Linked DNA regions of Homo sapiens. The protein of the gene in region 1 purifies or fractionates together with the protein of each later gene. This does not show direct contact. Each region holds a gene or a part of one and is shown on either strand. Other genes may lie near its edges.

Region 1 (5,452 bases):
TATGGCTGTTTATTTTCATTTCACTTTTCTGCATTGTAGTCTCTTCCTATAATTAACATGGCTGAAAAGAAAAGGTTACTCTAAAAGTTGTTTTTAAAAAATACAGAGCCTCTCGGATTTCTCAGCAGCGTTTAAATCCCAGCTCTGTTACTTAATGTTGATTTGTGCTCTTGGATAAGCTTCTGAGTCAGTTTCAACAGTGAAATGGTGATAATATCTCCTTCTAGAATTGCCCTAAGCATGAGGGATATAAAATGCCATCCTCATAAAATAACACTCAGAATCATTAATTATTTGTTATTATTGGATCTGCGTGCATATGAAAGAATCCGGACTTTTTTGTATTTTGAATCCCATGAAAGTTCAGATGTGTTAAGTTGTATGGGGGGAGGTGATATATTGGAAAAGTTGCCTTCATGTATAACATGTTTGCCTCATAAGTTGTTATGGGTGTTATACATCCTTCAAAGTGAAAGAATTCTTGAGGATAGGCAGCAGGGGACTGACTGGTATCCTATTTAAGGTTGATGGGAATCCAAGAGTGATCAAGAGACCTCCAAAGTGGCCAGTGGTCCTTCACTTGTACATGAGTTAGTATTTTTTGATTTGTGATCACAGCCACTTTCTAACAAAGCATGTTGTTTCTGCTTTTTCACTATCAGATTGGCTTTGAAAGCCTTCATGAAAACATGCCACCCAGTTTCTGATTTCTTCATATCAGAATGGCTTATCCAGAGATTTTGTTTTCCTTTCTGGCTTCATCTTGGTGAATCAGTAGTTATTTTTTTAACCTATATTTTATTTTAAAAGCCCTGGCACTCTCAGCAAATTTCGTGTGACTTGGGTACCTAGAGAGGTAGCAGAGAATTGAAATTCACTTTTGGACTCCCTTCTGTGGCCTCCTCTGCTTCCAGTCCTTTCTCATCCTGACGTCTACCATCATTTATCAAAAATTCAAAAGCTAGAAAAAGTCATTCTAAAGCCTGGTGTTGGGTCTGCAGAAAATGTCCCAAATGTCTGTCCGTAAGGAGTGCAGAATCTAGTGGGAATTAGATAAACTAGGGCTTTCACAAGGCTTTCTGGGATATCCATGTGGAACCTTGGCCTGCTCTCCATTTCTGTGACTCTTTGATGGGCCCTTAAATCTAAACCTGTGTTTGTTTTTTAAAACTCATCAGGAGAGTTTTTTCCCCCAAGGATCATCTTAATTGAAGAACTGAATTAAAAGCATGCATATGCCCTGTGTCTACACTTAAAACTATCCAAACACTACCAGTTGTTTAATGAGGTTGTTCCTAGACCAACAGATACTTTAGTGTTTTGTAGAGATATGTTATTTGCAAGGCTTTGTCTTCTGTAACTGCTTGGCCTTAAAAACCTGCCTGTCTAGAAAGGGGGGCCTCTGAGTAGTGTTTGATAATAAGAAATTGCTTTCAGTACTACTGCAAACCCTTTTGGCAGAAACATAGAATCAACATTCTAGAAATTAAGGGCTGCTGTTATGGTTTGGGGTTTGTAAAGTTGTAGTTGGAGCGAGGACCAAAAAATGTAAACTGGGTTATCATGAGGGATTTGTTTTTCCAACAAACTAGATGGTTGAGGGTTATGTCTTTCTTATTATGAGGAAGAGGTTTTTGCCTAATAAGGTACTATATGAAAATGAATGTCTTTGAATATCTTCTTAGTTTTTCTTTTATCCTTGGTTCTTTTTTAATTAAAGAAGTATTTAATTAACACCAACTACAATCAAGTCACTGTTCTGAGTCTTCTTTGTGCTCATGTTATTTTAATTTTAAATTAATTTTTAGATTTTGGTAATGTGTGTATTGTACAGTTAAATTATATAGTGAAAGTAATTCTCTGTATCCCAGCCACCTGGTCCCCTTCAGCTGCCTAATCTTCCTCAAATTCTGTACTAGCTTTTGCACTGTCCCAGAGATAATCCATGCCTATACAAGCATCCATTTGTATGATATTCTCTTGTTTCACACAGGTAGTCCTAGCACCATGACAGAATTGTAGCCCTCTCAGTGAACTACACACCCTTGTATTCAAGCTCCGTGTAATTCCTGCCCATATTGACTGTGCTTGGCCGTGTGACTGGTTTTGGCCAATGGGTGTTAGCAAGTGTGATGCAAGCAGAGGTTTGATAAGAGCTTGCACTTTGAAATGTGTTCTAGAGGAGTGCTTGCTATTGTGACACTCCCTCTCAGTACCCAGAAGCCCCCAGCTGTGAGGTCCCCACCTAGTCATAAAGAGAAGCCACATGGAAGAGAACCGGGTCCCTGCCAACAGCCTCATCTGAGCCCCTAGCCGGCAGCAAGCATCCACTTGGCAGCCATGTGATGAATGAACTATCTTCTTGGAAGTGGAACTGCCAGCCCCATTCAGGCCACCCCCAGTGGTGCTATGTGGAGAAGAGACAAGCTTTCCCTGCCAAGCCCTGTCCGAATTGAAAAATTGTGAGCTGTTGCTAGTAATGTACTAAAGTTGGTTTGTCATGTAGCAACAGATAACAAACACATGCTATATATATGATATTTTCTGTGCCTTGCTTTTGTTGCTGAGCAGTATATTAGATATCAGCTTATTTCATTACATACAGAGTCACATCATTCATTTTAAGAGCTGAATAATATTCCATTTATGGCTGTACAGTAATTAACTAGCCTCTTATTGATGGACATTGATGTTTCTAATCTTTCTCAGCATTTAATATCTCCATGGCATGCTTTGTTTTGCACATGAACAAATATATTTATTGGGTAAATTCTTAGAAGTAGAGTTGCTGAGTAAAAGAGTACGTAAATTTGTAATTTTAATAGGTATTGCAAATTGCCCTCCAGAGAGGTTACACTCCCACTAGCAATGTAGGAAGACTGTGCCAGTGTGGTTGGAATGTTACATTTCTTTTTAATATTTTCCCATGTATTTTAAAAACCATATGCATTTCTTTTTTGATGAACTGTCTTCTTTTTTGTTTGGATTGTTGGCCTTTTTCTTTTTTGGAGGAACTCTCTGTATTTAAAGAAATTAACTCTTAATGTATGCTATGTGAAGCAAATCTTTTTTCCCCCAGTTTTTTATCTTTTGACTTCATTTGAATAATTTTTTGTCCTTATTGTGTTTAGTTATGTCAAATCTTTTATAGCTTTTGGATTTTCTTGGTTTTGTTCTGGTTTGTTGGTCATATTTAGGCTTTTCTCACTTTAAGATTATTGTAGATATTCTCCTGTGTTTTCTTCTAGTGTTTTTGTTATTTCTTTTTTACATGTTAATCTTTGATCTGCCTGAAATGTCTTTTGACGTAGACGTTTCCAGGTAGGTGTCCGAGGTGGCTAGTCATTTGTCTGTTAATATTGTTATACCATGTCATCCTTACTATACAGTCATGATGCTTTAGTCAATGATGGACTGCACATATGACACTGGTCCCATGATATTACAATGAAACTGAAAAATTCCTATTGCCTAGTGATCTCGCAGCTGTTGTAATGTCATAGTAATGCATTACTCATGTATTTTTGGTGAGCTGGTGTAAACCAACTTACTGTACTGCCAGTCATATAAAAATAGAGCACATACAATTCTGTACAGTACATAATACTCGATAATAAATGACTATGTTACTGGTTTATGTATTTACTATACTCTATTGTTATTTTAGAGTGTACTCCTTCTACTTATAAAAAGAAAAAGTTAACTGTAAAGTAGCCTCAGGCAGGTCCTAGGAGGTATCCAGAAGAAGGCATTGTTATTATAGGAGATGACAGCTCCATGCCTGTTATCGCACCTGAAGACCTTCCAGTGGGAGAAGATGTAGAGATGGAAGACAGTTATACTGATGATCCTGACCATGTGTAGGCCGAGGCTAATGTATGTGTTTGTGTCTTAGTTTTTAACAAAAATGCTTAAACAGTTTAAAAATAAAAAAATTTTAAAAGCTTATAGGATAAGTATATAAAGAAAATATTTGATAAAGCTGTCCAGTGTGTTTGTGCTTTAAGCTAAGTGTTATTACAAAAGAGTCGAAAGTAAAAAAAAAAAAAATTAAACGTTTATGAAGTAAAAAAGTTACAGCAAGCTGAGGTTAATTAATAAATTATTATTATTGTTTCAGAGACAGGGTCTTGTTTTGTCTCCCAGGCTAGAGTACAGTGGTGCAATCATAGCTCACTGTAACCTTGAACTCCTGGGCTCAAGCAGTCCTCCTGCCTCGGCCTCCCAAAGCATTGAGATTACAATGAGCCACTGTCTGGCTATGTTGATTTATTGTTGAAGAAATAAAACTATTTTTTATAAATTTAGTGTAGCCTAAGTTTACAGTGTTTATAAAATCGACAGTAGTGCAGTGTCCTAAGTCTTCACATCTACTCAACACTCATTCACCGACTCACCCAGAGCAACTTCCAGTCCTGCAAGCTCCATTCATGATAAGTGCCCCATACAGGTGCACCATTTTTTAATCTTTTATATTGTGTTTTTACTGTACCTTTTCTATGTTCAGATATGTTTAGATACACAAGTACTTACCATTGTGTTACAATTGCCTACAGTATTCAGTACAGTAACATGCTGTACAGGTGTGTGGCCTAGGAGCAACAGGCTACACCATACAGCTCAGGTGTTTGGTAGGCTACATCAGCTAGGTGTGTGTAAGTGACTCTATGATGGTCACACAACGATGAAGTCACAATGATGACTCATTTCTCAGAATGTATCACCATCCTTAACATCATTAAACATTCATGTATTTACTGGATTCAGCAATATCTTTTGAACTGCTGTCCCCCAAATTACTTAATTATTCCCTTTTTTCTCTTAGGAAATGCTACAGTGAATATTTAAAATTCTATGTAATTATTAATCCCAAACCTTTGTGGATATAGAAATCAACATTTATATAGTCTGCATTTTACAAGTTATTTAAACATTTGTGTTGTTAAGCTGCTCAAAAGCCGGTTGGCAAGGTCTGCATTTTATGCACAGGAAAAAGGAGAAGATCATTCCATGTAAAGGAGATTCATCTGAAGACAAGCAGGATTGTGTACAAGTAGAGAGAAATGTGCTTTTTTATGATGTATCATGTATAAAGGCCTGTTCCCAAATTTCTGAAGCACATGGAAGTTCTGGTGTAAAAAGTATATCTAGTTAAGACAGCTGTAGGCTGGGAGCCTGTGAAAGGAAGATTTTGCTTGTTAATAGAATGACTGAGACTACATCATCCTGTGTAGAAACCAGGGAATAACACTTGTACTGTGTTGTGTTAAGAAAACAGGTTCTTTAATTAAGTGATGTACCTGAAATTTCAGGTAATGACTACAGCTCTCCTGAACACCCAGGAGGGCGGTGACACTGAGTCACAGGCAGAACTATGAAATTCCTTGTGAAACTCAACTTTCTGTTCTTCCAGCCTTTCCCCTCCCGCCCCTCGGCTCAGCCACAGGTGCTC
Region 2 (5,188 bases), on another chromosome or scaffold:
TATGTGAAGTATTAAGTAATACCCCTAGTATTTCTGCTTTTCCTAGAACTTAATCAGAGATGTTACTCATTAGATACTTGCACTTGATCCTCTAATGATCCTCTAAAATATTTCCTGTTCTTGCATGGGAATACCACAACCTCATCATAGAATGGCCAGTTTCCTGAGAAACTATAAACTATAAACTGTAAACTAGGAAACTGTAGTTTCCTAGTTTTATAAATAAAAATCAAAGCTTTACTTAAGCACAAAGATAGAGTATTACTCAGTTTAGTCTCTGTTGTTATACCCTGGCTTCTTTTCAGTTTTTTTTTTTTTTTTTTTTTATTATTTTTTTTTAAATTTATTTTTTTATTGATAATTCTTGGGTGTTTCTCACAGAGGGGTATTTGGCAGGGTCATGGGACAATAGTGGAGGGAAGGTCAGCAGATAAACAAGTGAACAAAGGTCTCTGGTTTTCCTAGGCAGAGGACCCTGCGGCCTTCCGCAGTGTTTGTGTCCCTGATTACTTGAGATTAGGGATTGGTGATGACTCTTAACGAGCATGCTGCCTTCAAGCATCTGTTTAACAAAGCACATCTTGCACCGCCCTTAATCCATTTAACCCTGAGTGGACACAGCACATGTTTCAGAGAGCACAGGGTTGGGGGTAAGGTCACAGATCAACAGGATCCCAAGGCAGAGGAATTTTTCTTAGTGTAGAACAAAATGAAAAGTCTCCCATGTCTACTTCTTTCCACACAGACACGGCAACCATCCGATTTCTCAATCTTTTCCCCACCTTTCCCGCCTTTCTATTCCACAAAGCCACCATTGTCATCCTGGCCCGTTCTCAATGAGCTGTTGGGTACACCTCCCAGACGGGGTGGTGGCCGGGCAGAGGGGCTCCTCACTTCCCAGTAGGGGCGGCCGGGCAGAGGCGCCCCTCACCTCCCGGACGGGGCGGCTGGCCGGGCAGGGGGGCTGACCCCCCCCAACCTCCCTCCCGGAGGGGGCGGCTGGCCGGGCGGGGGGCTGACCCCCCCACCGCCCTCCCGGACGGGGCGGCTGGCCGGGCGGGGGGCTGACACCTTCTTTTCAGTTTTATGAAAATAATTAGATGTTTTAGGAACATGAAATTACTAGCTTTCCAGCTAAAATGTTCTCAAATCTACAAAATACAGAGCTACATAAACATGAAACCACTTTTGATAACGTCAGTCATAAAGACTTGAACTCAGACTTCTCTCTCTTTTTTTTTTATTTAATTAGATCTTGGGTTCAGAGTTGAATTAATGATTATCCTCAGTTCACGACCCACTAAGACCTTACCAGGTCCCTCTTTTGTCTCATTTAATTTTTATTTTCCCCTTTGTTCTTCATCTCTACTCTTCTTCCTTCCCTAGCTATCCAACACACACACACACACACACACACACACACGCGCGCGCGCGCGCGCGCCCTTAGTTAAAAATTGTATTGGTCATTGAGTCACTAGATTCAGTATGTTTGTTCTCTTCACTTGGCAATTTGTTAGAATGGCTAACTTAGTAACTTAATAGTTAAATAAGCAAATCAGCTTAGTCCGCTTCCTGTTTGTTTAAAACCATCCTGCATGTCTTCACAATTAACTTCTTTGTGCGTTTCATGGTTTCCTGTGTTCTCAAAAACAAGTTAATGATATACAGTAACGTATATCATTTGAAAAAGCAGTTTCTTTTTCAAAATAAGAAGCCCATTCTTCCTTATTCAAGATTGTTACAACTCTTATTCGAGATTCGAGATTGTTACAACTCTGCCTCATGAGAGGGGAGAAGCGCCTGTCACCCTGACCCGCCCCGGCCAGGCTGGCTGGGTTGCAGGTGGAAGTGGGTAGGACTGTGTTTCACGCTGAGTAGGTTGTGTGCAAAACACACTTTTGACTCCATAAAAGCATTTTCTTTTTTGGGTGTTCGGCGGGTGGACAGAGTGTAGTGGTACAATCTCGGCTCGTTACAACCTCCGCCTCCCAGGCTCAGGTGACCCTCCCACCTCAGCCACCCAAGGAGCTGGGGCCACAGGTAAAAGCCACCACGCCTGGCTAATTTTTGTATTTTTTGTAGAGATGCGGTTTTGCTGTGTTGCCCAGGCTGGTCTTGAACTCCGGCTCAAGCAATCTGCCCGCATCGGCCTCCTAAGGTGCTTACAGGTGTGAGCCACCTCGCCCAGCCCCTGATAAGAGCATTTAAGAGGTGACAGGGCTGGCAGGGCCATAGTGGCTCACACCTGTCTGTAATCCCAGCACTTTGCGAGGTTGAGGCAGGCGGATCACCAGCAGTCATAAGATCGAGACCATCCTGGCTAACACAGTGAAACCCCGTCTCTACTAAAAATACAAAAAAAAAATTAGCTAGGCATGGTGGAATGCGCCTGGGTGACAGAGTAAGACTCCATCTCAAAAAAACAAAAACAAAAACAAAACAAAACCAAAAAAACAAGAAAAAGAAAAAAAATTATCCAGGCGTGGTGTTGGGCACCTGTAATCCCAGCTACTCAGGAGGCTGAGGCAGCAGAATTGCTTAAACCTGGGAGGCGGAGGTTGCAGTGAGCCAAAATCATGCCACTGCACTCCAGCCTGGGTGACAGAGTAAGACTCTGTCTCCAAAGAAAAGGTGTGACGGGGCATCTTATGTGTGGGGTGTGTATTCACAGAGAGAGAGTGCAAACTATACATTCTTCCTTTTAATGCATATTTTTTATTTAAAAGTATGCAGTTTATGTCACTTGATACAAGCTGGTATTGAGACAAGGATGGCAGTTTGCTTGTTTGTTTTGAGACAGAGTCTTGCTCTGTCACCCAAGCTGGAGTGCAGTGGTGCCAGCTTGGCTCACTGCAATATCCACCTCCCAGGTTCAAGCGATTCTCCTGCCTCAGCCTCCCAAGTAGCCGGGATTACAGGTGTTTGCCACCATGCCTGGCTAATTTCTGTATTTTTAGTAGAGATGGGGTTTCACCATGTTGGCCAGCCTAGTCTCCAACTCTGACCTCAGGTCATCCTCCTGCCTCGGCCTCCCAAAGTGCTGGGATTACAAATGTGAACCACTGTGCCCAGCCTAAGAATGGCAGTTTGCCTGTCCTGCTAGGATGATCATTGTGTTGCCCTTGACTGATTGGTTGTTGTGGGAAACGAGAGATTTTGTAGCCATAAACTTTCTAAGTCTGTGGTTTTTATTTTCTGTTTGGTTGATTTGTTTTGGTAGACTTTTTAATACTTGTTGCACAATAGTTCTAAACAAACTAATTCATTTGCTTTAACGAAGTCAGACCTTATGCAGTCAGACCTTCTACATGCTTCTGTTTGTCCCTAAGAATGACTTCCTGTTCCTGGGTGGGGTGTCCCTGGGCTTCCATGGGATGAGGTGAGACATGAGGGTGAGAGTGGGCATCGGAGTGGCCTTTGGCATGACAACCTCTGCTCTCCCTGCAGACCGTTCCCCAGCACACCCCACCCCACTCAGCCGCTCAGCCTCCCTCAGTTACCCAGACCGCACAGACGTCTCAACTGCAGCAACCTTGGCAGGCAGCAGCAACCAGTTTGGCAGCTCTGTCCTGGGCCAGTACATCTCTGACTTCAGCGTCCGGGCACTCGTGGACTTGCAGTACATCAAGGTGAGTGCCTCACTGCCCTGTCTGGGCAGTGCTATCTTCTGCTCAGGAATCAGCTACTACTTTCATCCACCAAACCCAGCATGGTGGGCCCAAACCCGAGATGCCTTTTTCTTCTGGAGATGGGGTCTTGCTCTGTCGCCCAGGCTGGAATGCAGTGGTGTGATCATAGCCCACTTCAGCCTTGAACTCTTGGGTTCAAGGATTCCTCCCACCTCAGCCTCCTGAGTAGCTGGGACTACAGGTGTGCATGTGGCTTCGGGTTTTTTTTTTTTTTCCCCTTATAGAGATGGGGTCTCACTGTGTTGCCCAAGTTGGCTTGAGACTCCTGGGCTCAAGCGATTTGCCCGCCTCAGCCTCCTGAAGTGCTGGGATTACAGGTGTGAGCCACTGTGCCCAGCCCTGAGATGCTTTCTTCTCTTGTTCGTGCACCTTGTTCTTTGTAAGGGCTTCCAGAGACGCTGACTGGTCATGTTCTCTCTCAACTCACAGCCTCAATCCTGGCCCTGTTTCTCCAGGCCTGGTGATAGGGTCTGCCTCCCAGCCCCTCCCTCCATGAACTCATCCCTTCCTCATGCAGATCACTCGGCAGCAGTACCAGAACGGGCTGCTGGCTTCTCGCATGGAGAACAGCCCTCAGTTTCCCATAGACGGGTGCACCACCCACATGGAGAACTTGGCCGAGAAGTCTGAGCTGCCTGTGGTGGACGAGACCACAACTCTTCTCAACGAGCGTAACTCCTTGCTGCACAAAGCCTCCCACGAGAATGCCATCTGACAGGAGGGCCCGGGGCCCCCTGCCCACCCTGCGGGGGCCTCCCCAGTGGGCCCACATGAAGAGAGGGAACCTGTTAGTCCAGAAAGGATACGGATAGATAGCCTGTCTGACTGAACAGCCAGATGGCCCCCAGCCTATGGGGGATCTGGCCTCTGCCAGGGACCTCTGAGTAGCTCTGAGGTGGCACTGTCCAGCCCTGGATAGGGGGGGCAGTGGGCCAGCTACCGTAAGCAAAGGCTGTTTTTTACTGAGAGAATTTCTAAAGTAGGCTCATCACTTTTTTTTAAATATCATTTTGGGAAGGGAAGACAGGGTTAAGGAACTTTATTTAAAAAAAAAATATTTTTTTCCTAAAAACTATAAAAGAGGAAGGGTTTCTTGTCCCGGGAAGCAACGGACATAATCTGTTCCCAGCCATGGCCTTCCAGCTTGTGTCCCTGATTCAGGGAGCTCTCCCTTCCTCCTCCTCCTCCTCCTCCGGAGGTGGGATCCCAGAGCCTGCCAGTGGAGGCTTATCTGTTGGGAGGAAGACAGCTCTTCACAGAAGCAAAGAACAAAATGGCATGGAGATCAGCTGCCTGAGCACCTGCGCTGTAGCTTATCTGACAACGCTGAGGCCACGAGCTCCTGGGTAGCTGTGATCAGGGACATGATAATCTGAGCTATGCAGAGGAGCACATCTGTTGTCAACTGCTGTACCCAGAAATCTAGAACTCTGCCGACAGCCTCTCCTGGTGAGTCGGGACTCAGCTGAGGACACATCCCCACCCTGCCTCCCATCTGG
Region 3 (4,828 bases), on another chromosome or scaffold:
AGCTACTTTTTAGTTTCTAAATTTACATGCTTGCCCCTAAAAGGGAAGAATAATTGAGACAGGAAGAATAGGGGGTATTAAGAGTAAATATAAACTGATTTTTCAGTGCTCCCTTTCTTTTGCAGGTAAAAACAAATGGAATCTCTGATGGCAAAAGAGAATCACCATTAAAGATTGACCCATTTGAAGATCTGTCATTTAATCTGCTTGCTGTATCAAAGGCTCAGCTATCTGTTCAAACGTCACCTGTTCCCACCCCAGACCCAAAGAGGTTGATTCAGTTGCCTTCTGCAACGCAAAGTAATGTTTTGAGTTCTGTAAGTTGCATGCCAACAATGCCTCCAATTCCAGCTCGGAGTCAATCCCAGGAAAATATGCGAAGTTCTCCAAACCCATTTATTACTGGCTTGACCAGGACAAATCCTTTCAGTGACAGGACTGCTGCTCCTGGAAACCCATTTAGAGCCAAGTCTGAAGAATCAGAGGCAACTTCATGGTTCTCCAAAGAAGAGCCCGTTACTATCAGTCCTTTCCCTTCTCTGCAGCCTCTTGGTCATAACAAAAGCAGGGCTTCATCTTCACTTGATGGCTTTAAGGACAGTTTTGATCTACAGGGCCAGTCTACATTAAAAATTAGCAACCCGAAAGGATGGGTAACCTTCGAGGAAGAAGAGGATTTTGGTGTGAAAGGGAAGTCAAAGTCAGCTTGTTCAGACTTACTGGGTAATCAGCCAAGTTCATTTTCTGGCTCCAACCTGACATTGAATGATGACTGGAATAAAGGTACAAATGTCTCCTTCTGTGTGTTGCCGTCAAGAAGACCTCCTCCACCTCCTGTCCCTCTGCTCCCGCCCGGCACCAGCCCTCCAGTAGATCCTTTCACGACCTTGGCCTCTAAGGCTTCACCCACACTGGACTTTACAGAAAGATAACGCCATGCAATAGAAAACAGTGGGTACTTGCTTTTGGCAGGATAGAGCTAAGAGAATTGGGCATTAGTATTTCATTATGTGCAATAAGTCATTGTAAGTGCACTGATATCTTCACAAAACACCACTATTTGATGTGTACAGAGTTGGACTATGTGTATATTGGAAATAAGGAAAAACCCTTCTCATTGTTAACTGGAGTTTTGATGTATTTCTCTTTGGATGAATAGGAGACAGTAGTAGCCATAAAAAGTACTTATACTTTAGAAAACAGTCCTTATTCAGAAACTTTTCGGTCAGTCTTCTGAAGAATCTCAAAAAGCCCACCCAACTTTCAGCTGACATTTCCACCAGCCCTCTCATACTTGTTAACAATTGGTATCTTTGAGTATTTACCAAAGAGCTGCCAAGGTTACAGTGAACAGAGTTTTGAAAGGCATTGCTTTAAAGGAAAAAAGTATAGGTATGTGTACATATATAATACATACAAACACATGTACTTCTGTATACATTTACATATTTTTACAATTCATACTTTAATTTCTAGGCTATAACTCAGACCAAATTATACCTAAAAGTTCCAACAAAGTCCCTTTTTCAATATCACATTACCAAAAAGATGGCTGCAAATGTAATTTGGACCTTTCATTAATTTTGTTTTCAAAACTAGAATAATCTCACCACAGAATCAGAATTTTCTACCGTTCCACACCCAACCCCTTCAAATACACACAACCTTGTTACTTTTCACTCCAGCACCTTCATACGCTTTTCTCCAGGAGGAGGTTCTTGCAGCTGGAAACAGCCTATTTTGTGGTCACTGTCAAGTGGATGGATATTCTAGCGCTCCCAAAAAAGCACTATGGCCTTATATGCAGGGAAGGCACATACCACCAAGTTCAATGAGAAATATTAGAGCTAACCGTACTCTCTTCTCTGCGTACGTTCGAGTATACGTTGCCCATATCCCTCCCATATTTTCTTTTTGCTGCTTTTGCTCTGGAACTTTGCTTTTAGCAGGGAAAGCAGCTGTCCCCTGAGTGCTTTGAATTGGGAATATACCCAGTGTGTGTTCTCCCCCCTCTTACGAGGCTACATAACACATCTATGATGCTGCTTTAAGTTTTTAGAGGCTATACCTCAAAGTAGCTGCGGATTTTGTCTCCTGCACTGCCAATATGCAACTGATCCCGCTTTTATTAATTTTTTGAAGAAGTACACAGAATTTTTACAGAATGTAGTATTTTGATATCATTAAGTAAACCAATCAGAAAACTCCTTGAGCAATAGTTGTTTCTTTGTCAGTTTCAGTTACAATCATCTTTACCCATTAAGACTTACATTAACATTCCTTTTATATAAAGAGTTGTATATGTCCACCTAAATTCCTATGTCCACACTTAACCTTTAAAGATGTACATTGAGGGAATATCAAAAAATAGCGTTCATGGCTACGAATATGTAGAATGTTAAAAGCACAGCAAACTGCACTGCACTTATAAAGCAAATCTATTAGAAAAAAAGCATTTTTCTAAATGCTCAAATGTTATCAAAATACTATATTTATAGAAGTAATCTTCTCTGTTAACAGCCAAGATTTGCTGTTAGAAATAACTCTTGTGAGTTTTATATTGTGCTTTTTGGAGGTTCTAATCATTTCAGCAGTAGCGTCTTAAACAGCAGTATTACTATAAGCAGTTGCTTCAAAATGTGAATTAACTTGTTGAAACTGTGGCTTTAACATCCATGTGACTAGTGTATATGGTATTTGCTCTCCATTAGCAAAATAATTCATTGTTAGGTAAACTTCACTAGTGCAAATTGCAGATCTGTGAGCAATGTTTCCTATTGAATATAAACTACTGTCTAAAATATACATATCAGCAGCCCAGCCTTTATCAGGAAAATTATACTTGGCAAGTTGCTGAAAATGCACAAAGTTATGAAAGTTAAAGGTATGCTGCAAATAACTAGCCATTATTCTATGTATTATTAAATATTTACTAGTTCTGTTAAAAGCAGAGCAGAAGTTAGACACTAAGGATCTCTTTGTGAACTCTGTGTTCTCTATATTAGATTGCTGTTTATATGTAAGAATTTTATTGCTTATGTGGCATACAATATTTATAACTATAAACTTTATAGAAGTACAGTATTAAAGTCAGTGGTACACAGACATTCTGTACATATCCTGTGAAACGTGCTGTCATATGAAATAAATATATCTGTCTTTACCATGCTGACTTCTTTGTTAGAAAGGGAAGAATTTTTCTCAGCCATTTTCCTTGTACTTTACATACACAAGTTTGGTGACGTTCAAACAAAATAAGCTTAACCCTTATTGCCGAATCAGATATTTTAATTCAAGACCTTATTTTCATTTCTCCAGATAGTGCTTCCTCTAAAACTAAGAAGATTTTCCGAGATTACTAATCATTATTAAAAAGTCCATGCCCAGCCTGGCCCACATGGTGAAACCCCATCTCTACTAAAAATATGAAAAAAAAATTAGTTGGGCGTGGTGGTGCAGGCCTGTAATCCCAGCTACTGGGGAGGCTGAGGCAGGAGAATCACTAGAACCTGGGAGGGAGAGGTTGCAGTGAGCCGAGATTGTGCCATTGCACTCCAGCCTGGGCGAGAAGAGCGAAACTCTGTTTCAAAAAAAAAAAAAAGTCCATGCACTTATTCCATAAGAGAGGCCCTCACGCAAAAACATGCTGACTTGAAAATAATACAAGAAATATGAATGATTTTTCTTACCCAAAGTAGAAGGAACAAGTGGGGGGCAAAGAGGAATTGGGACAAAAATAGCCAATCAGAAAAAGGGACTGCCTAAAGAGACCCAAATTAAAAGGCCAGGGCCGGGCGTGGTGGCTCACGCCTGTAATCCCAGCGCTTTGGGAGGCCGAGATGGGTGGATCATGAGGTCAGGAGTTCGAGACCAGCCTGACCAACATGGTGAAACCCTGTCTCTACTAAAAATACAAAAATTAGACGGGCGTGGTGGCAGGCGTCTGTAATCCCAACTACTCAGGAGGCTGAGGCAGGAGAATAGCTTGAATTTGGGAGGCAGAGGTTGCAGTGAGCCGAGATCACGCCATTGCACTTCATCCTGGGGGACAGAGCAAGACTGTCTCAAAAAAAAGAAAAAGAGGCCAAGGCTAGGCAAGGTGCAATGGCTCATGCCTATACTCCCAGCATTTTGGGAGGCTAAGGCAGGAGGATTGATTGAGCCCAGGAGTTCGACACTAGCCTGGACAACATAGACTTTATCTCTGGTAAAAATCAAAAAAATTAGCTGGGCATGGTGGTGCGTCCCTGTAGTCCCAGCTACTCAGAAGTTTGAGGTGGGGCATCACTTGAGCCCAGGAGATCGAGGCTGCAGTGAGTGAGCTATGATCACACAACCACACTCCAGCCTGGGCATCGGACCAAGACCCTATCTCACCAAAAAAAAAAAAAAAAAAAAAAAAGCCAAGGCTAGTATTGCCTTTTTTCAGACCTGTCTGATTGATATTTGAAATTCTTACTTTAATTCTTAATGTTCATTAACCTTTTATTAAGAAGTTACAGAATTATTGGCTTACAAAAACCATTTTAAGATACTTGTAGGTTAATATGGAGTTATAAGAAATAATACAGAGACCCCGTGTACCCCTTTACCCACTTGCCCCCATGGGTAACAGCTTGCAAAACTACAGTACCAGAGCATGACCGAGACATGAACAATACAGAGCATTTCCATCACCATAAGGAGCCCTCATGTTGCCCTTTTCCCACTGCCCTTTCATCCCATCTCCTTTTCCCCTGCCCTTAACCTCTGGCAACCACTAATCTGATCTCCGCATGTATAATTTTCTCACTTCAAGAATGTTACATAAATTGAATCATGGTATGTA
Region 4 (5,452 bases), on another chromosome or scaffold:
TCTTCGTCTGTGGGCTCTCTCTCCAGGCTGTGTTTTCCTCAGTCTTCTACTTCGCATCCGTCCCTTTGTATCAGGGCTTCCTCATGGTGGGGTAAGTTACACTCAGAACCTGCCAGCTCATCCAGGGGAGGACTTCTATTTTGAAAAAAAAAAAAAAAAAAAAACAAAAAACGTATATAGAAGATTCTTGATACAGTCATCATTTAGAATGAATAATACTGATGTAAAAACAACATTTTACTTGGGTGAACTTCAAGACAGCACCTGCACACTTGTTCCTCCTGGGATTTTCTTATTAGATTTTGTTTTCAAGTGGAAGCCATAGTTTGTGTCAGGAACTGTGTTGGATCTGAGATTTTTAAAGGGTCCCGTGGCAGAAGGCGGAGGGGCAGAGTGGCCACTGACAGGCCCTCCCGGCTCTCTGCAGGCTGCCCTCCCCTGGCTGGGGCTTCATCCTGTTGTGCGGCGTGGCCAGCAGCAAAGAGAGAACAGGAAGTGCAGGGACATGGTGTGGCATGCTTCGAAGCAAACACTGTTGGTCTCTCCTGGGCAGGAATGGAATCTCATTTTCAAAGATAGCAGCACCAGGGCTGGGCGCGGTGGCTCACGCCTGTAATCCCAGCACTTTGGGAGGCTGAAGTGGGCGTGGGTGGATCACCTGAGGTCAGGAGTTCGAGACCAGCCTGGCTAACATGGCGAAACCCTGTCTCTACTAAAAATACAAAAAAATTAGCCAGGCGTGGTGGTGTGTGCCTGTAATCCCAGCTACTCAGGAGACTGAGGCACGAGAATCACTTGAACCCGGGACGGGGAGGTTTCAGTGAGCTAAGATCGTGCCATTGCACTCCAGCTTGGGCAACAAAGTCAGACTCCATCTCAAAAAACAAAGATAACAGCAGCAGTGTCTTAGAAAAGGACACCAAAAGCACAGCAGGCATGCGACGTGCATTGAAAGCTGAGCTGATTTTGCTGCTGTATCTGCAAAACAGGAGCTTCCTGTGAAGAGGGAATAGGTGGGAATTTCTCTTTTCCTCCTCCTCTGTGGTTATGACTAGAAATGAAATCAGTGTGACTGTTGGTGTTGGCAGCAAACTAAAAGCAGCCTCTCATCTGCCACTGACCTCCCTGACCTCTGCAAAGCTCATGCCCACCTTAACCAGGTTCCACTCCACAAAGAGTCTCAGAAAATACTTGAATAGTAACAGCCACTGGCTTCGATGCTCTTGGCGTTGAACGTGCTTTCATCCTCACCTTGTCCCCACTTCATGTGTGAGAAAAGTGAGAGACCCAGAGAGCTCAGGAACTCACCCGTGGGAGGCCCAGCTCAGACCTGAGTTGTCAGGGGCTGGCGCCGGGTGCTGCTCCTCACCGTCACGCAGCCACTGAGCTTACCCCAGGTCCACAGAGAAACAGAGTCCTTTCTCCCTGCATAGCTGTTTCTAGTCCGCAGTCTAAACACCGTTTCACTCGACAGCTCCCTGAATCCCAGGAGTTCCTCACAATTTTAGCAAAATACAGGGAAATATCAGTCTGTGCGTGTGTTAGGTTTTTGTTAAACATGTGAGGTCCTCTTAAGTCACCTTTTTCCTGAGTTAGAATCACTGAGAGGCGCCCCCGTCATCCTGAGCTGTCCAAGGAGCATGCACAGAGCTGGCACTTGGGTCTCTGCCTTCCTTCCGTCTCCAGTCTTCAGGTCCTCTCTGTCCTCTGGCCTCCACACATGATGTCCCCTTGGCCTAGACCACTGCCAGATGTCCCCATTGTCCTTGCTTCCCTGGGAGGCCCCGCACCCCCCCCCCCACCATGCACCTTCACACCCCCAGGCTGCGCAGTTGTATTACCAGTTAGCGTCCTATTCTCCTGCGTGCTCTACAAGGACAAGGCACAAGGTATATCGGGTCCTCGTACCTGCTGTGAGTTTGTCAGCGTGAACTTCAGTGCATGCGAATTTCAGAGGAGGGCCAGACTCTGGCGGATTCTAGGCCCCCCACCCCAAGCCTCAGGACAGCTGAGCTGTGGGGCTCACAGCTACCAAGACTCCTGGGGCACCTGCTTCGGACTCCACGTCCTTCGCCTGCACATGTTAGCACCGTTCCTCCCAAGATAGCAGCAGCCTGTCCTGTGGTCTTAAAAATCACTTTGAATAAAGTAGGTAAGAGCCTAGGGAAACCTTCGCAGGTGTCTTCAGGCTTCTCTCACCCCTAGCCCTTCATCTTCGCACAAGTGCCTCTGTTTTAGGCCCCTGCCTGCTGTAATCACTCAGGGAATAACCCCCATGATCGTAAGCATTGCAGACTCTCTTTTTGTGGCCCACAAGGAAAGCGCCGTCATCGGCCCTGGGCTCTCCTGGCCGCTGAGGCTCCCTCAGCCCCAGTATGAGGTAGCACAGGACAGCACTGTGCGTCCATGGTGTCAACTTGAACCTTATTTCATGACTCTACGTGACCAAAGAATGTCCCAGCAACCTACCAACTCATAGCCCATACAGTTGATGGAAATGGTGGTAGGATTTGTGCTAATATTCTCAGCTTTCCGTGAATTCCAGTAGTGTTTCCTATAGTACTTCAAACAAAGGTGAAAAATCCTAAAGGTACAATAAGTGCTAACGCTTTTTAAATAAGTTTTCCCATTGCCTACATATTTACAGTAATTATTACATTAGTTGCTTTTTTTTTTTTTTTGAGACAGAGTCTTGCTGTGTCGCCCAGGCTGGAGTGCAGTGGTGTGATCTCAGCTCGCTGCAACCTCTGCCTCCTAGGTTCAAGTGATTCTCCTCCCTCAGCCTCCCAAGTAGCTGGGATTGCAGGCATGTGCTACCACGCCCAGCTAATTTTTGTATATTTTTAGTAGAGACGGGGTTTTGCCATGTTGACCAGGGTGGTCTCGAACTCCTGACCTCAAATGATCCACCTGCCTCAGCCTCCCAAAGTGTTGGGATTACAGGCATGAGCCCCTTCGTCCAGCCTAGTTACTTTTAAATAGTACAGAATTTGCACAGTAATACTGATTGCATCTTGAGTTTGAACAGTGTGTTTCTTCCTTGGAAGTCATAGAAAAGCATAACCCTTCTCACCTTCTTTCATATTTTAAAAATCATGGATTTGAAACATGAAAAGGAAAATGTGGGGGACCATGGAGATTATTCTTTAAAGAACTACTGCTTGGGTTAGTGAGGCCTGTGCCTGCCTCACAGCCCGAGTGCTCTGCAGCGTCCCCAGCTCCTGTTCCTACAGCTCTTCTTTATAATGGGCTTCATGTAAAGTAACTCTGAGTGTCCGTCACAAAAGAAACGTCTGTGACTTTCTTAAGCACTCATACTCTGAATTGGGTTAGGTGGGAGCTTTGGAGGGGCGATGCCTTTAGTTAAGCTTCTTTGAAAATAAATAATGAGTTTGCCTTCACCTAGGAAATAAATACCAAGAATTGAACAAAAATCAACATGATGTTTTTACAAAATAACATCTAACTAGAACAAAATCATGTCTATGATAAACTGGCTCTAGAACCTAGAGGACAGTTGATAGAATTTAATTCCACAAATATGGTTTTCATCTGCATTCATTTCATCAGCTCTGGAGGGAACTGTTGGCCCAGGTGACTTTCCTGAAGCAAGAGGCCCCAAGAGCAGGAAGGACTAGGCATACTCAGTGCACAGCAGGGAAACCCAGGGAGGGACCAGGGACCATGGGGGCCGCAAAGGTGGTGATGGGGAAGCCTAGGGGGATGGGGGATGGGGCAGCAGGAGGGGCTGGGAGAGACAGGACAGCCTGGGGAGGTTCCTGTGACCCCCAAGCCCACTCTGCCCTTGCCCCCCAAGCAGGCCTGGGGAATGCCATGCCCTCCCCGAGAAAGAGAGCTCCTAGGCCAAGTCCTCATGGGGAACCTCTGTAGGGTGCAGCATTGTGCACTTTGGCAAGTTGGAGGCTCTGAGAGAGACTTCTGATCTCATGAGCCCACAACTCATGTTCCACGAAAATGCTTTGGGAAAAGCTAGTCTGAACTGGCCAGAGGTGTCTGTCTCCCCAGAGATTCTGGCAGCTGCCGGCGAGGACCTCACACACAGCGCCACATCATAGCAGCCATTCCTGGGTGTGGGTCTTCTTTTACCCTTGCTAGTGACTCAGATGGATAGCCTGTGAGTGCTCTCGTTAAAGTCAGATTGAACCTTAATTGAGCACCAAGAAGGTGCATGACATTCCGAGAGAGAGCTCTGGGCAGGAGGAGCACAGGCAGGTCCCTCGGGGAGCCGTGTCCAGACCTGCAGGAACGGGAGGCTCTGTGGGTTTATCAGAGAGGGTCTTGAGAACTTCTGCTTCCAGCCGTGATAAACAGATTTATCTTCCAAGCCTAATTAAATGCAAAACACAAGAAAACACGTGAAACAAATGTTTTCAGACATTGGATAAGAAGCTGGGGACAGGGATGCCTCAGAGAAGAGAAACAACTCTCCCACATCTAGAACGAACAGCCAGACGGCCTCAAAACCTCTGTTTCAACAGCCACATGGCCTCGAAACCTCTGTGTTTCAACAGCCAGAGGGCCTCGAAACCTCTGTGTTTCAAGAGTCCTTGTACCTGCTGTGAAGTTTGTCAGAGTAAACTTCAGTGTGTGCAAATCTCAGAGGAGGGCCAGGCTCTGGTGGGTTCTAGGGCCCCCCAACCTGTGCCCAGATTGGCACAGACTTCCTAAGCATGAACATCGTGATGCATGGAGAATAAACTGACATGATGGACTTCATAAAAATTAAGTTTTTGCTCTTCTAAACATAGTACTAATCAAGTAAAAAGGCAGACAAGAGTAAAATACTTTCAGTACATATCTTCAACTCAACGATCAGACAGACAACTCAGTTTTGTTTTTAAGATGAAAGATTTGAACATTCATCACAAAAGAAGACATAAGAATGGTCAGTAAGCACAAGAAAATGTATTTAACATCATTAGTTACCAGGAAAGATAAATTTAAGCCACAGAGAGAGTTAAGGCTCTGCTACCACGGAGGCCAGGCCGAAAGGCCAAGTGGCGTTTTGGCAGGCGGGCAGCAGGGTGGCACTGCTGGCGAGAGTGCAGATGGTCCAGCCACTCCAGAAAGCAGGCTGGCAGTTTTTATGAAATTAAAAATTTGCTGCCCCATGCCCCAGCAACCTCCCTCCTCAGTGTTCACCCAGGAAAAAGGAAAACACTCATGCTTCCACGCAAACCGACACAGGGACTCTCACCGCTTCAGCTGTGATCTCCACAGACTGGGAGCTTCCACGCAGACCAGCAGCAGGACTCTCACCGCTTCAGCTGTGATCTCCACAGACTGGGAAAACACCAACGGCCATCCACCAGGGGGTGGAAGAGCTGCATTGTGTCCATAGTGTGAGACGCTGGCCTGCAGCACAGAGAAAGCAGAGGACACGCTCGGCAAGGTGGGCGAGTCCTGACACCGCTGGCCCGAAGAGACCCAC

What was found.
Region 2: the proteins of ATP7B (region 1) and CNNM4 fractionate together in Homo sapiens (co-fractionation; one large-scale study listed by BioGRID). This does not show direct contact.
Region 3: the proteins of ATP7B (region 1) and SYNJ1 fractionate together in Homo sapiens (co-fractionation; one large-scale study listed by BioGRID). This does not show direct contact.
Region 4: the proteins of ATP7B (region 1) and ATP9B fractionate together in Homo sapiens (co-fractionation; one large-scale study listed by BioGRID). This does not show direct contact.

The regions. Positions count from the first base shown.
Region 1 is NC_000013.11:51,975,830-51,981,281, reverse strand, and holds part of ATP7B (copper-transporting ATPase 2), read left to right. Parts: intron 1-5,452. UniProt on the Homo sapiens protein: Copper ion transmembrane transporter involved in the export of copper out of the cells. It is involved in copper homeostasis in the liver, where it ensures the efflux of copper from hepatocytes into the bile in response to copper overload.
Region 2 is NC_000002.12:96,805,114-96,810,301, forward strand, and holds part of CNNM4 (metal transporter CNNM4 precursor), read left to right. Parts: intron 1-2,082; coding exon of another isoform or gene 2,083-2,168; intron 2,169-3,447; coding exon 3,448-3,629; intron 3,630-4,118; coding exon of another isoform or gene 4,119-4,206; coding exon 4,207-4,404; 3' UTR 4,405-5,188. UniProt on the Homo sapiens protein: Probable metal transporter. The interaction with the metal ion chaperone COX11 suggests that it may play a role in sensory neuron functions. May play a role in biomineralization and retinal function.
Region 3 is NC_000021.9:32,627,099-32,631,926, reverse strand, and holds the end of SYNJ1 (synaptojanin-1), read left to right. Parts: intron 1-106; coding exon of another isoform or gene 107-932; 3' UTR 933-3,164; downstream 3,165-4,828. UniProt on the Homo sapiens protein: Phosphatase that acts on various phosphoinositides, including phosphatidylinositol 4-phosphate, phosphatidylinositol (4,5)-bisphosphate and phosphatidylinositol (3,4,5)-trisphosphate. Has a role in clathrin-mediated endocytosis.
Region 4 is NC_000018.10:79,348,106-79,353,557, forward strand, and holds part of ATP9B (probable phospholipid-transporting ATPase IIB), read left to right. Parts: intron 1-26; coding exon 27-91; intron 92-5,452.